Homo sapiens: one gene and its partners. The protein of the gene in region 2 interacts with the protein of the main gene of each other region in a pairwise test. Each region holds a gene or a part of one and is shown on either strand. Other genes may lie near its edges.

What was found. The genes of interacting proteins can lie anywhere in the genome.
Region 1: the proteins of NDFIP1 (region 2) and BDKRB1 interact in a two-hybrid assay, tested with the Homo sapiens proteins (one large-scale study listed by BioGRID and IntAct).
Region 3: the proteins of NDFIP1 (region 2) and SMO interact in a two-hybrid assay, tested with the Homo sapiens proteins (one large-scale study listed by BioGRID and IntAct).
Region 4: the proteins of NDFIP1 (region 2) and CCR2 interact in a two-hybrid assay, tested with the Homo sapiens proteins (one large-scale study listed by BioGRID and IntAct).

Annotation. Positions count from the first base shown.
Region 1 is NC_000014.9:96,262,237-96,265,263, forward strand, and holds the end of BDKRB1 (B1 bradykinin receptor), read left to right. Parts: exon of another isoform or gene 1-375; intron 376-415; 5' UTR 416-534; intron 535-1,436; 5' UTR 1,437-1,446; coding exon 1,447-2,508; 3' UTR 2,509-2,527; downstream 2,528-3,027. UniProt on the Homo sapiens protein: This is a receptor for bradykinin. Could be a factor in chronic pain and inflammation.
Region 2 is NC_000005.10:142,115,279-142,118,778, forward strand, and holds part of NDFIP1 (NEDD4 family-interacting protein 1), read left to right. Parts: intron 1-3,500. UniProt on the Homo sapiens protein: Activates HECT domain-containing E3 ubiquitin-protein ligases, including NEDD4 and ITCH, and consequently modulates the stability of their targets. As a result, controls many cellular processes.
Region 3 is NC_000007.14:129,209,133-129,212,632, forward strand, and holds part of SMO (protein smoothened precursor), read left to right. Parts: intron 1-156; coding exon 157-265; intron 266-1,230; coding exon 1,231-1,416; intron 1,417-1,832; coding exon 1,833-1,981; intron 1,982-2,503; coding exon 2,504-2,638; intron 2,639-2,891; coding exon 2,892-3,319; 3' UTR 3,320-3,500. UniProt on the Homo sapiens protein: G protein-coupled receptor which associates with the patched protein (PTCH) to transduce hedgehog protein signaling. Binding of sonic hedgehog (SHH) to its receptor patched prevents inhibition of smoothened (SMO) by patched.
Region 4 is NC_000003.12:46,359,276-46,361,440, forward strand, and holds the end of CCR2 (C-C chemokine receptor type 2), read left to right. Parts: 3' UTR 1-401; coding exon of another isoform or gene 402-585; 3' UTR 586-1,665; downstream 1,666-2,165. UniProt on the Homo sapiens protein: Key functional receptor for CCL2 but can also bind CCL7, and CCL12. Also transduces signaling mediated by CCL13.

The sequences.
Region 1 (3,027 bases), on a different chromosome or scaffold from region 2:
CCTGGCTTTGTCATTCATCGCGTGGGGACAGGTGCAGCAGAAGAGAGCAGACAGAAGCACAGGATCTCAATCAGGCTCTTGAATCAGACTGCCTGGGTTTGAATCCAGGCCCTACTGACCAGCTGTGTGACCTCAGACAGGCGACTCCGGGTCTCAGCACTCAATTTTCTAATTGGCCAACTGGAGATGACAATGGCCCCTACCTTGAATGGCTGCCAGGAAGATTAAATGAGAAAATACTTAAATGTGAAACACTTAGAATGGCGCCTGGAACACAGACCATTAATACCATCTAACAGATGTTAGTTGTTATCCTTATTTATTACTCATGCTTTCCTTTCTCTTTTTTCTTTTCTCTCTCTCTCTCTCCTTTTTTTTTTTTTTTTTTTTGTTGTTGTTGTTGTTGTTGAGACAGGGTCTCAGTCCGTCGGCCCAGACTGAAGTGCAGTGGCACAATCATAGCTCGCTGCAGCCTCGACCTTCCAGGCTTAAACGATTCTCCCACCTCAGCCTCTCGAGTTGCTGGGACCACAGGTATGCACCACCATGCCCAGCTAATTTTTGTATTTTTTGTAAAGACAGGATTTCACCATGTTGCCCAGGCTGGTCTTGAACTCCTGGGTTCATCTGATCCATCTGCCTTGGCCTCCCAAAGTACTGAGATTACAGGTGTGAACCACCACACCCGGCCAATACTCATGTTTTTCAAGCCTGTAAGAGGAACCTCCTAGCACTGTCCCCACCCCGGCCACCACACTGGTCCCAGCCCCAACAGGTCAGCTTCCTTTGCTGTTCCCGGGCTTCCCTCAGCTCTATCTCAAGCCATGACCTCTGCCTCCATGTCTGCAGCCCCATGAGGCTGGGGCTGCTCTGTCCTGCATATCTCCAGTGCCTGGCAAGGGGCTGGCAAGAGGTAGAGGCTCATTAAATGCCTGTTAAAACCCTAATAGTAATAATAATAATGGTACAGTTGTTACTAAGACTAATCACTACCTTCCAAAGTCTTTCCTCTATGCAAGGCACGGAGCTAAGCACCCTGTAGATCCTGACAACAGCCCTCCCGTGATCCCACAAGAGAGACACGATTCTCTCCAATGTTTAAAAAGGAAAGTAAAAGTCAATGGTTCTAAGTAGCTCACACTGAGTGATTGTACCGGGATTTGGACTCAGGCACCATCCCTTAAACCAGAGGTCAGCAAACTTTTCCCCCTCAGGAACAGATGGTAAATATCTTCAGCTTTGCAAGCCAGACAGTCTCTGTTACAAGCGCTCGACTCCCCCTTGTAGCATGAACACAGCTGTAGATAATACGTCCAGGAATGGGTGTGGCTCTGTGCCAATAAAACTTTATTGTCCAAAAACAGGTGACAGGTTGGTTTGGCTCATAGGCTGTAGTCTGCCACTTCCTGTTTTATTCTACCTTCTGTTCATTTCAGGTCACTGTGCATGGCATCATCCTGGCCCCCTCTAGAGCTCCAATCCTCCAACCAGAGCCAGCTCTTCCCTCAAAATGCTACGGCCTGTGACAATGCTCCAGAAGCCTGGGACCTGCTGCACAGAGTGCTGCCAACATTTATCATCTCCATCTGTTTCTTCGGCCTCCTAGGGAACCTTTTTGTCCTGTTGGTCTTCCTCCTGCCCCGGCGGCAACTGAACGTGGCAGAAATCTACCTGGCCAACCTGGCAGCCTCTGATCTGGTGTTTGTCTTGGGCTTGCCCTTCTGGGCAGAGAATATCTGGAACCAGTTTAACTGGCCTTTCGGAGCCCTCCTCTGCCGTGTCATCAACGGGGTCATCAAGGCCAATTTGTTCATCAGCATCTTCCTGGTGGTGGCCATCAGCCAGGACCGCTACCGCGTGCTGGTGCACCCTATGGCCAGCCGGAGGCAGCAGCGGCGGAGGCAGGCCCGGGTCACCTGCGTGCTCATCTGGGTTGTGGGGGGCCTCTTGAGCATCCCCACATTCCTGCTGCGATCCATCCAAGCCGTCCCAGATCTGAACATCACCGCCTGCATCCTGCTCCTCCCCCATGAGGCCTGGCACTTTGCAAGGATTGTGGAGTTAAATATTCTGGGTTTCCTCCTACCACTGGCTGCGATCGTCTTCTTCAACTACCACATCCTGGCCTCCCTGCGAACGCGGGAGGAGGTCAGCAGGACAAGGTGCGGGGGCCGCAAGGATAGCAAGACCACAGCGCTGATCCTCACGCTCGTGGTTGCCTTCCTGGTCTGCTGGGCCCCTTACCACTTCTTTGCCTTCCTGGAATTCTTATTCCAGGTGCAAGCAGTCCGAGGCTGCTTTTGGGAGGACTTCATTGACCTGGGCCTGCAATTGGCCAACTTCTTTGCCTTCACTAACAGCTCCCTGAATCCAGTAATTTATGTCTTTGTGGGCCGGCTCTTCAGGACCAAGGTCTGGGAACTTTATAAACAATGCACCCCTAAAAGTCTTGCTCCAATATCTTCATCCCATAGGAAAGAAATCTTCCAACTTTTCTGGCGGAATTAAAACAGCATTGAACCAAGAAGCTTGGCTTTCTTATCAATTCTTTGTGACATAATAAATGCTATTGTGATAGGCTAAATGATTACTCCCGTAGATTGGGGGGTACCTAATCCCTGGACTTGATGAATGTTACCAAATTAAGGGTCTTGAGATGGGGAGATGATCCTGAATTATCCAAGTGGGCCCTATATAATCACAAGGGTCCTTATAGGAGGGAGGCAGGAGGCTCAGAGTCAGGAGATGTGACTATGGAAGCAGAGGCCAGAGGAATTCAGGACGGCCACTACGAGCCAAGGATTGCAGGCACCCTCTAGAGGCTGTAAAGGGCAAGGAAATGGCTTCTCCCCTGGAGCCTCCAGAAGGAATGGGTCCTGCCAACTCCCTGTCTTCAGCCCAGGGAAACAGATTTAGGATTTCTGGCCTCCAGAACTGTTAGAGGATACATTTGTGTTTTGTTTTGCTTTGTTTGCTTTGCTTTGCTTTGCTTTTTTGAGATGGGGTCTCGCTCTGTCACCCAGGCTG
Region 2 (3,500 bases):
TTCTTTTTTGTTTGTTTGTTTTGAGATGGAGTGTCTTTCTTCTTGCTCAGGCTGGAAGGCAATGGCGCGATCTCGGCTCACTGCAACCTCCGCCTCCCAGGTTCAAGCGATTCTCCTGCCTCAGCCTCCTGAGTAGCTGGGATTACAGGTGCCCACCACCACGCCCAGCTAATTTTTTGTATTTTTCGTAGAGATGGGGTTTCACCATGTTGGCCAGGCTGGTCTTGAACTCCTGACCTCAAGTGATCTGCCCGCCTCGGTCTCCCAAAGTGCTGGGATTACAGGTGTGAGCCACTGCGCCCGGCCTATATTCTTATAATAATGGACAATTTAGATAAAGCAACTTTAATACTTCTGTTCCATTCATACTGAAAATTGGCATGATGGTTTATCTTTTTTTCAAGTCATTGTTGCCAATAAGCTAGGCAACTGGCAAACATCATGTATGAAATTTTTTGGGCTTGACATACTTTCCAGTGGTAATTGCTTCTAGTGGTTGGCTAGGTGGGGGTATGAGTTAGAGTAGGCTCTGGGTATCCACAGGTTCTACATTCGCAGATTCAACCAACTGCAGATTGAAAATAGGGGAAAATAACCATACAATAATAAATAATAGTGCAAGTAAAATATACACTATAACAGCTATTTTACATAGCATTTACATTGTATTAAGTGTTATAAGTAAAGATGATTTAAAGTACATGAGGTAGGTTATGTGTAAATACTATACCATTTTATGTCAGAGGCTTGTGCATCCTCCCATTTTGGTATCTGTGGGGAGTCCTGGAACCAATTCCCAGTGGATACTGAGGGATGACTGTATGATATGTCTTGTTAACTTGACCAAGAGTGGTAGTAAAGCAAGTGTAACTTGATATCACTTAGCACATCCTGCTGTTACAATAAGGCTTACTCATGATTTTTCTGAATAACATAATTTATATTAAATGTCCTAAATACTAGCACTGATCAAGTTTAAGAGCATTCCTAGTGAAATATTTTCTTATTAATGCAGTTCCCTTCATATGTATATTTATTTATTTATTTCCTTCCTTCCTTCCTTCCTTCCTTCTTTCTCTCTCTCTCTCTCTCTCTTTCTTTCTTTCTTTCAACAGAGTCTTGCTCTGTTCCCCAGGCTGGAGTGCAGTGGCGCAATCTTGGCACACTGCAACCCCTGCCTTCCAGTTTGAAGCCATTCTCCTGCCTCAGCCTCTGGAGTAGCTGGGACTACAGGTGCCCGCCAGCAGGCCCGGCTAATTTTTGTATTTTTAGTAGAGGTGGGGTTTCACCATGTTGGCCAGGCTAGTCTCGAACTCCTGACTTCAAATGATCTACCCACCTTGGCTTACAGAGATTACAGGTGTGAGCCACCATGCCCAGGCTACCTTCATATGTATTTTTCTTTTCTCTTCTCTCCTCTTCTTTTTTATTTATTTATTTATTTATTTTTGAGACAGGGTCTGGTTCTGTCACCTAGGCTGTAGTGCAGTGGTGAGAGCTCTGCTCACTGCAATCTCCGCCTCCTGGGTTCAAGAGATTCTCGTGCCTCAGCTTCCCAAGTAGCTGGTGTTACAGGTGCATGCCACCACGCCTGGCTAATTTTTGTATTTTTAGTAGAGATGGGGTTTCACCACGTTGCCCAGGCTGGTCTCGAACTCCTGGCCTTAAGTGATCTGCCCATCTCTGCCTCCCAAAGTGCTGGGATTACAGGCATGAGCCACCGTGCCCGGCCCATATGTATAATATATTTCTTATCCCCCTCCCCGAGCAATTTAGCATAATCTTTGACCATTTTTCTGTTTTTGTCTTTTAAATTAGTTTATCTCAGCAATATTAATTAGTACTTACCATAATCAAAGGCTTGAATACAATTTGGAGGTCTATCTGGAGACTGGACAATTTATGAATAGAGATATAAGGGTTTAGGGAGTGGTGCCTGTTTAATAATGATTTCATTTTCTTTTTTTGCTTTTTTTTTTTTTTTGAGACGGAGTCTCACTCTGTCGCCAGGCTGGAGTGCAGTGGCGAAATCTCAGCTCACTGCAACCTCCGCCTCCTGGGCTCAAGTGATTCTCCTGCCTCAGTCTCCTGAGTAGCTGGGACTACAGGCGCCCGCTATCACGCCCAGCTAATTTTTTCTATTTTTAGCAGAGGGGGTTTCACCATGTTGGCCAAGATGGTCTCGATCTCTTGACCTCGTGATCCACCCGCCTCCATCTCCCAAAGTGCTGGGATTACAGGTGTGAGCCACTGCGCCTGGCCGATTTCATTTTATCATTCGATGCTTAAATGTGATATTTAAAATTAAGCATTTTGTATTAAATAGTAATACATTCTTCATGTGCTAGATTCAAACAGTAACTTTCTAAAGAAAAACTTGATTTCCCTTTCCTCCCTATCTCTTTGCAGAGCTGTAACTGCTCCTCAAGTTTGGTGTGTGTTCTACAGGCTTTTTTTTTTTTTTTTTTGAGACAGGGCCTCACTCTGCACCCAGGCTGGAGTGCAGCCACATAGTCTCGGCTCACTGCAACCCTCCATCTTCAGGCTTTCTTCTTAACCTTTCCTTGGCTTTAAATGTTTTTTAAATAAATCTGTACTTTCAAATAGACTTTACTTTTTGGAACTTTTTTCCCCCTAAGATGGGTTCCTGCTATGTTGCTACCCAGGCTGGCGTCAAACTCCTTGGCTCAAGCGATCATTCCCCCACTGACCTCCCAAGTAGCTGGGACCACAGGCACACGCCAGCACACCCAGCTGAAACATTTTTAATTTTTCAGAAACACTGAGAAGACAGTAGAGAGTTTCCATATGCCCTATGCCCAGCTTTCCCTATTAGCATCTTATATCAGTATGGTACGGTTTTCACAATTATTGAACCAATATTAGTACATTGTTATCAATTAAAGTCTGTACTTTGTTCAGATTTTCTAAGTTTTTACCTAATGTCCTTTTTCTGTTCCAGGATCCCATCCAGGATCCAGGATGATATAATGTGGTAATGTTACATTTAGTCGTCCTGTCTCCTTAGGCTCTTCTTGGCTGTGAGTTTCTCAAACTTTCCTTGTTTTTGATGAGCTTGACAGTTTTGAGGAGTATTGGTCAGGTCTTTGTAGAATGTCCCTCAATTGGGGTTTGTTTGATGTTTTTCTCATGATTAGACTGGGGCTGTGGATTTGGGGGAAGACCACAGGTAAAGTGCTGTTCTCATCACATCATATCAAGAATGCACACTTTCAACATGACTTATCATTGTTGACATTGACCTTGATCACCTGGCTGAGGTAGTGTTTCTCAGGTTTCTCTTCTGTAAAGATACGTTTTACCCCACTTTCCATACTTACTCTTGGGAAGGAAGTCACTATGCATGGTCCACACATAAGGAGTGGGGAGTTATGTAACACCTCGCTGAGGGCCAAGTATTGACATGAATTATTTGGAATTTCCTGCATGGGGCATTTGTCTCTGCTCTGATAATTTGTTTAGTATTTATATCTGTATAG
Region 3 (3,500 bases), on a different chromosome or scaffold from region 2:
ATTTTAGAGAAAGCAGTTCTTGGACTGAGCCCAGCATGAGTTCACCCCAGCCCCAGCTGGGTGAACTTTGAGGCCCAGTGGGGCAGACTCTCTCCTCCCCACTGCTGCTGCGGGACTGGGCTTGGTAACGTCCTGTCCTGCCCCTGTCCTCCACAGGCATTTTTGGCTTCCTGGCCTTTGGCTTTGTGCTCATTACCTTCAGCTGCCACTTCTACGACTTCTTCAACCAGGCTGAGTGGGAGCGCAGCTTCCGGGACTATGTGCTGTGAGTGAGGGGCATGGAGGCGGCAGTGCTGGGAGCTGGAGCCAAGGCCATAAAGACACCCACCTCCACCCACCGGGCAGCAGGGATTTGCCAGGTCCCTGCTGCAGACAGCAGATTCAATGGATGGTGTCTGGGTGCATAAGGCATCAGTCTCCGTAGTTTCTCAAACGTGGCAAACAACCTTCGCATCCCTTCTCACCTCTGCCCTTCCCTCTCCACCCCCTTGGTTGCCCAGCTGGTGCATGTGTGACTGTTAAGCAGCCAGTTCAGCTTCGTCTTCTCTGACTGACACTAAGTTGCCCTCTAATTCTGTGTGCTCTCCTGCAGAGCCTGCTTTAGATCCTGGCACAGGACTAGTTACCTCTCTGTGATAGGTTAATGACCTGCTAATGTTGGCTAGTTTTTGCCTGTGCTTTTTTGTGTCATAATGAGGATGGATTGGAGAGAGTAAGACATTGCTACTGCTGAGAGAAGCGCAGTACCCACTGTTACAAGGACAGTCGCTAAAATGGATGCTAGTCCAAGCCCTGACTGCTTCAGGCTCTTCCGTAAAGGTTCCGGCTTCCAGTCTGGGATGCTTTAAACCACAGTGATGCCTGAGTCTCTGCCCCAGAGATTCAATTTAATTGTCTAGGGTGGGTCCCAGGCATCAGTAGCTATTAAAAGCTCCCCAGTTGATTCTAATGAGCACCCAGGGTTGAGATCAGTGCTGTGGAGCTTAGCCCTTTCTAAAGTTTTTGGATTGATTGTCTGAGTCTACCCAGTAGACTCAGAAAACCCCACCTGTAGTCCCAGCTACTTGGGAGGCTGAAGCAGGAGATTGCCTGAGCCCAGGAGTTGGAAGCTGCAGTGGGTTGTGATCACGCCACCGCACTCTAGCCTGGGTGACAGAGCAAGATCCTATCTCAAAAAAAGAGAGAGGAAAAGAAAGGAAAGCCTCACCTGTCTACGTTCCCTCACTGTAGATGTCAGGCCAATGTGACCATCGGGCTGCCCACCAAGCAGCCCATCCCTGACTGTGAGATCAAGAATCGCCCGAGCCTTCTGGTGGAGAAGATCAACCTGTTTGCCATGTTTGGAACTGGCATCGCCATGAGCACCTGGGTCTGGACCAAGGCCACGCTGCTCATCTGGAGGCGTACCTGGTGCAGGTGGGCATGGCAGCCAGCCCCTCCTGCCCTGCCCGCCTCACCCTCAGCCTTGGGACCCCATCTTTAGGTTTTGTCGGGTCCTGCCTCTAGCACAGCCTTGGTCAGTGGTTCACCGCTGCCCCCTGGTGGCACCTTCTGTCCTTGGGTGGCCTGATGCCTGGGCCTGGGCCTGGGCCAAGGGCAGAGCCAGCTGCCATCACCTTTTAAGAGCGGAGTGATTGGAGGGCTGGGCACACAGGAGCTCTGCATTCTGGCCCCACTTCTTTGCAGAGAAGGCCTCTACTCCTGAGTCCTTGAAGGACTTGAGGCCCTTGGGAGCCTCCTTCTCTGGAAAGAATGGCATCGCTGGCCCTTCCCAAGATTTGATGGGAAGTGGCAGCTTCTTCACGCTCCTTCCCTATCCCTTCTGCTCTCAGGTTGACTGGGCAGAGTGACGATGAGCCAAAGCGGATCAAGAAGAGCAAGATGATTGCCAAGGCCTTCTCTAAGCGGCACGAGCTCCTGCAGAACCCAGGCCAGGAGCTGTCCTTCAGCATGCACACTGTGTCCCACGACGGGCCCGTGGGTGAGCCTCACCCCTCCTCTACCGGAGCCGCCTGGCCCCGCGCTGCCCATGTGCTAGTCTCTCCCAGCCTGCTGGGGGCACACAGATTATTTGGAAGACCGACTGTGAGGAGCAAGGCGCTCCCTCCATCGCTCACACACCCATTCTTCCCCCGGCCCCTCCTACCCTCTGGGGGGCTCTCCCCTCTCTGTTTCTGCCCCTGGGTCTGCTTGCCGGTGCTTGGGTTCCAAGAAGACTCCCCTCCCTCTCCCTTCTCATAAATTCTCCAGTTGCTCTCCCTGGGCAAGAGTAAGTCAGGGTTCCAAGAACTGGATTTCTGGCCTCCAGTTAGGCCCTTTGGGGACGTGAGGCCCTTCTCTTCAGATTCTGAAGGGGTAGAGATCACCGTGGTTACAGGGTGAGCTTTCTCTGGTGAGCAGGAGGGACTGGCTGTGGGAAGATGAATGGCACTGACTATGGGAGGCACTGCCAGGGACCGGGAAGTCACTATTCCTTCTCCTTTCCTTCCTTCCATTCCCACAGCGGGCTTGGCCTTTGACCTCAATGAGCCCTCAGCTGATGTCTCCTCTGCCTGGGCCCAGCATGTCACCAAGATGGTGGCTCGGAGAGGAGCCATACTGCCCCAGGATATTTCTGTCACCCCTGTGGCAACTCCAGGTATGAGAGTTCAAGCTTCTGGAGGAAGGTGGGGGGAGCACAGAGGCTGGGGGCTTCTGGGACTGGAGTACAGGGGCTGTCGGAGGAGGAGGAAGAGGAAGGAAAGGCCCCAGAGGATCTGAAGAGTGGGGCTGAGGCTCTAAGAGTCTAGAGACCTGGGCCCCAGAACTAACAGGTTAAGTGCTCCCAGGGGAGCGGGGGTGGCATGGACAGAGCCAGGGCCCCAGGCTCGTGTTGTCTCTCCTCCTGTCAGTGCCCCCAGAGGAACAAGCCAACCTGTGGCTGGTTGAGGCAGAGATCTCCCCAGAGCTGCAGAAGCGCCTGGGCCGGAAGAAGAAGAGGAGGAAGAGGAAGAAGGAGGTGTGCCCGCTGGCGCCGCCCCCTGAGCTTCACCCCCCTGCCCCTGCCCCCAGTACCATTCCTCGACTGCCTCAGCTGCCCCGGCAGAAATGCCTGGTGGCTGCAGGTGCCTGGGGAGCTGGGGACTCTTGCCGACAGGGAGCGTGGACCCTGGTCTCCAACCCATTCTGCCCAGAGCCCAGTCCCCCTCAGGATCCATTTCTGCCCAGTGCACCGGCCCCCGTGGCATGGGCTCATGGCCGCCGACAGGGCCTGGGGCCTATTCACTCCCGCACCAACCTGATGGACACAGAACTCATGGATGCAGACTCGGACTTCTGAGCCTGCAGAGCAGGACCTGGGACAGGAAAGAGAGGAACCAATACCTTCAAGGCTCTTCTTCCTCACCGAGCATGCTTCCCTAGGATCCCGTCTTCCAGAGAACCTGTGGGCTGACTGCCCTCCGAAGAGAGTTCTGGATGTCTGGCTCAAAGCAGCAGGACTGTGGGAAAGAGCCTAACAT
Region 4 (2,165 bases), on a different chromosome or scaffold from region 2:
CCTTACATTTGAAATCTATGAAATATCATGCTCCATTGTTCAGATGCTTCTTAGGCCACATCCCCCTGTCTAAAAATTCAGAAAATTTTTGTTTATAAAAGATGCATTATCTATGATATGCTAATATATGTATATGCAATATATATAGGCTCTTGCTTGATCTCTCCAGGAGGTAGTGATTATGAGAAGGGGGTGGAGAATGATGAGTTCCTTCACCAGGAGCAAAGGACGGGGATCGTGTGGAACCACTGCAGAACTATTTCCGAAATCAACTAAGTGGAGAGAGCCAGGAAGGCTGCATCAGAACCCAGTAAAGCTTCTTGTCTGGATCTGAGCTGGTTTGTTTTGTGCTTGCTTTTCCCTGCCTTGCCACTCCCCTCACTCTTCTCTTTTCCCCACAGCCTTTTTCACATAGCTCTTGGCTGTAGGATTGCCCCACTCCAAAAACCAGTGTGTGGAGGTCCAGGAGTGAGACCAGGAAAGAATGTGAAAGTGACTACACAAGGACTCCTCGATGGTCGTGGAAAAGGAAAGTCAATTGGCAGAGCCCCTGAAGCCAGTCTTCAGGACAAAGAAGGAGCCTAGAGACAGAAATGACAGATCTCTGCTTTGGAAATCACACGTCTGGCTTCACAGATGTGTGATTCACAGTGTGAATCTTGGTGTCTACGTTACCAGGCAGGAAGGCTGAGAGGAGAGAGACTCCAGCTGGGTTGGAAAACAGTATTTTCCAAACTACCTTCCAGTTCCTCATTTTTGAATACAGGCATAGAGTTCAGACTTTTTTTAAATAGTAAAAATAAAATTAAAGCTGAAAACTGCAACTTGTAAATGTGGTAAAGAGTTAGTTTGAGTTACTATCATGTCAAACGTGAAAATGCTGTATTAGTCACAGAGATAATTCTAGCTTTGAGCTTAAGAATTTTGAGCAGGTGGTATGTTTGGGAGACTGCTGAGTCAACCCAATAGTTGTTGATTGGCAGGAGTTGGAAGTGTGTGATCTGTGGGCACATTAGCCTATGTGCATGCAGCATCTAAGTAATGATGTCGTTTGAATCACAGTATACGCTCCATCGCTGTCATCTCAGCTGGATCTCCATTCTCTCAGGCTTGCTGCCAAAAGCCTTTTGTGTTTTGTTTTGTATCATTATGAAGTCATGCGTTTAATCACATTCGAGTGTTTCAGTGCTTCGCAGATGTCCTTGATGCTCATATTGTTCCCTATTTTGCCAGTGGGAACTCCTAAATCAAGTTGGCTTCTAATCAAAGCTTTTAAACCCTATTGGTAAAGAATGGAAGGTGGAGAAGCTCCCTGAAGTAAGCAAAGACTTTCCTCTTAGTCGAGCCAAGTTAAGAATGTTCTTATGTTGCCCAGTGTGTTTCTGATCTGATGCAAGCAAGAAACACTGGGCTTCTAGAACCAGGCAACTTGGGAACTAGACTCCCAAGCTGGACTATGGCTCTACTTTCAGGCCACATGGCTAAAGAAGGTTTCAGAAAGAAGTGGGGACAGAGCAGAACTTTCACCTTCATATATTTGTATGATCCTAATGAATGCATAAAATGTTAAGTTGATGGTGATGAAATGTAAATACTGTTTTTAACAACTATGATTTGGAAAATAAATCAATGCTATAACTATGTTGATAAAAGATTTAAAAACAACTGGCTGTTTTTTTACACTGTGGTGTGGAAGATTGTGTTGTGTTCACAACTTTTCACTTCTTCCCCTGTGTGATTACACACACCTGCCCTTGTGGTGTGACTTGCAGTGCGCCCTACAGGCCACACACCCCACGCCCTCCACCACTGGCTCTGCTGCTGGAATGTGAGCAGAAGTGACATCTGCCTCATCCAAGCGGAGCCTCTTGCTCAGCCACAGGAAGGCCCATTCCAGATCACACCCGTCAGCCCGTGCGCCCTGGTGAATGAGAAGACACAGGGAGCTGCAGCCACATATAACATGAGCAAGAAGTCTGTGTTTGCTGTGATAAGCCACTGAGTTTTAGGGGTTGTTTGTTAAGAAGCACAAAAACCGATTAAGACATGTGGTATATAGTGACTTCATATATAGAATCTGGAAAACTATCCATTTATTTTCAATCATGGAATTCAATATGACAAGCATCCCGGAGGGTCTACCTATGCCAGACTGGGTTGGAAAC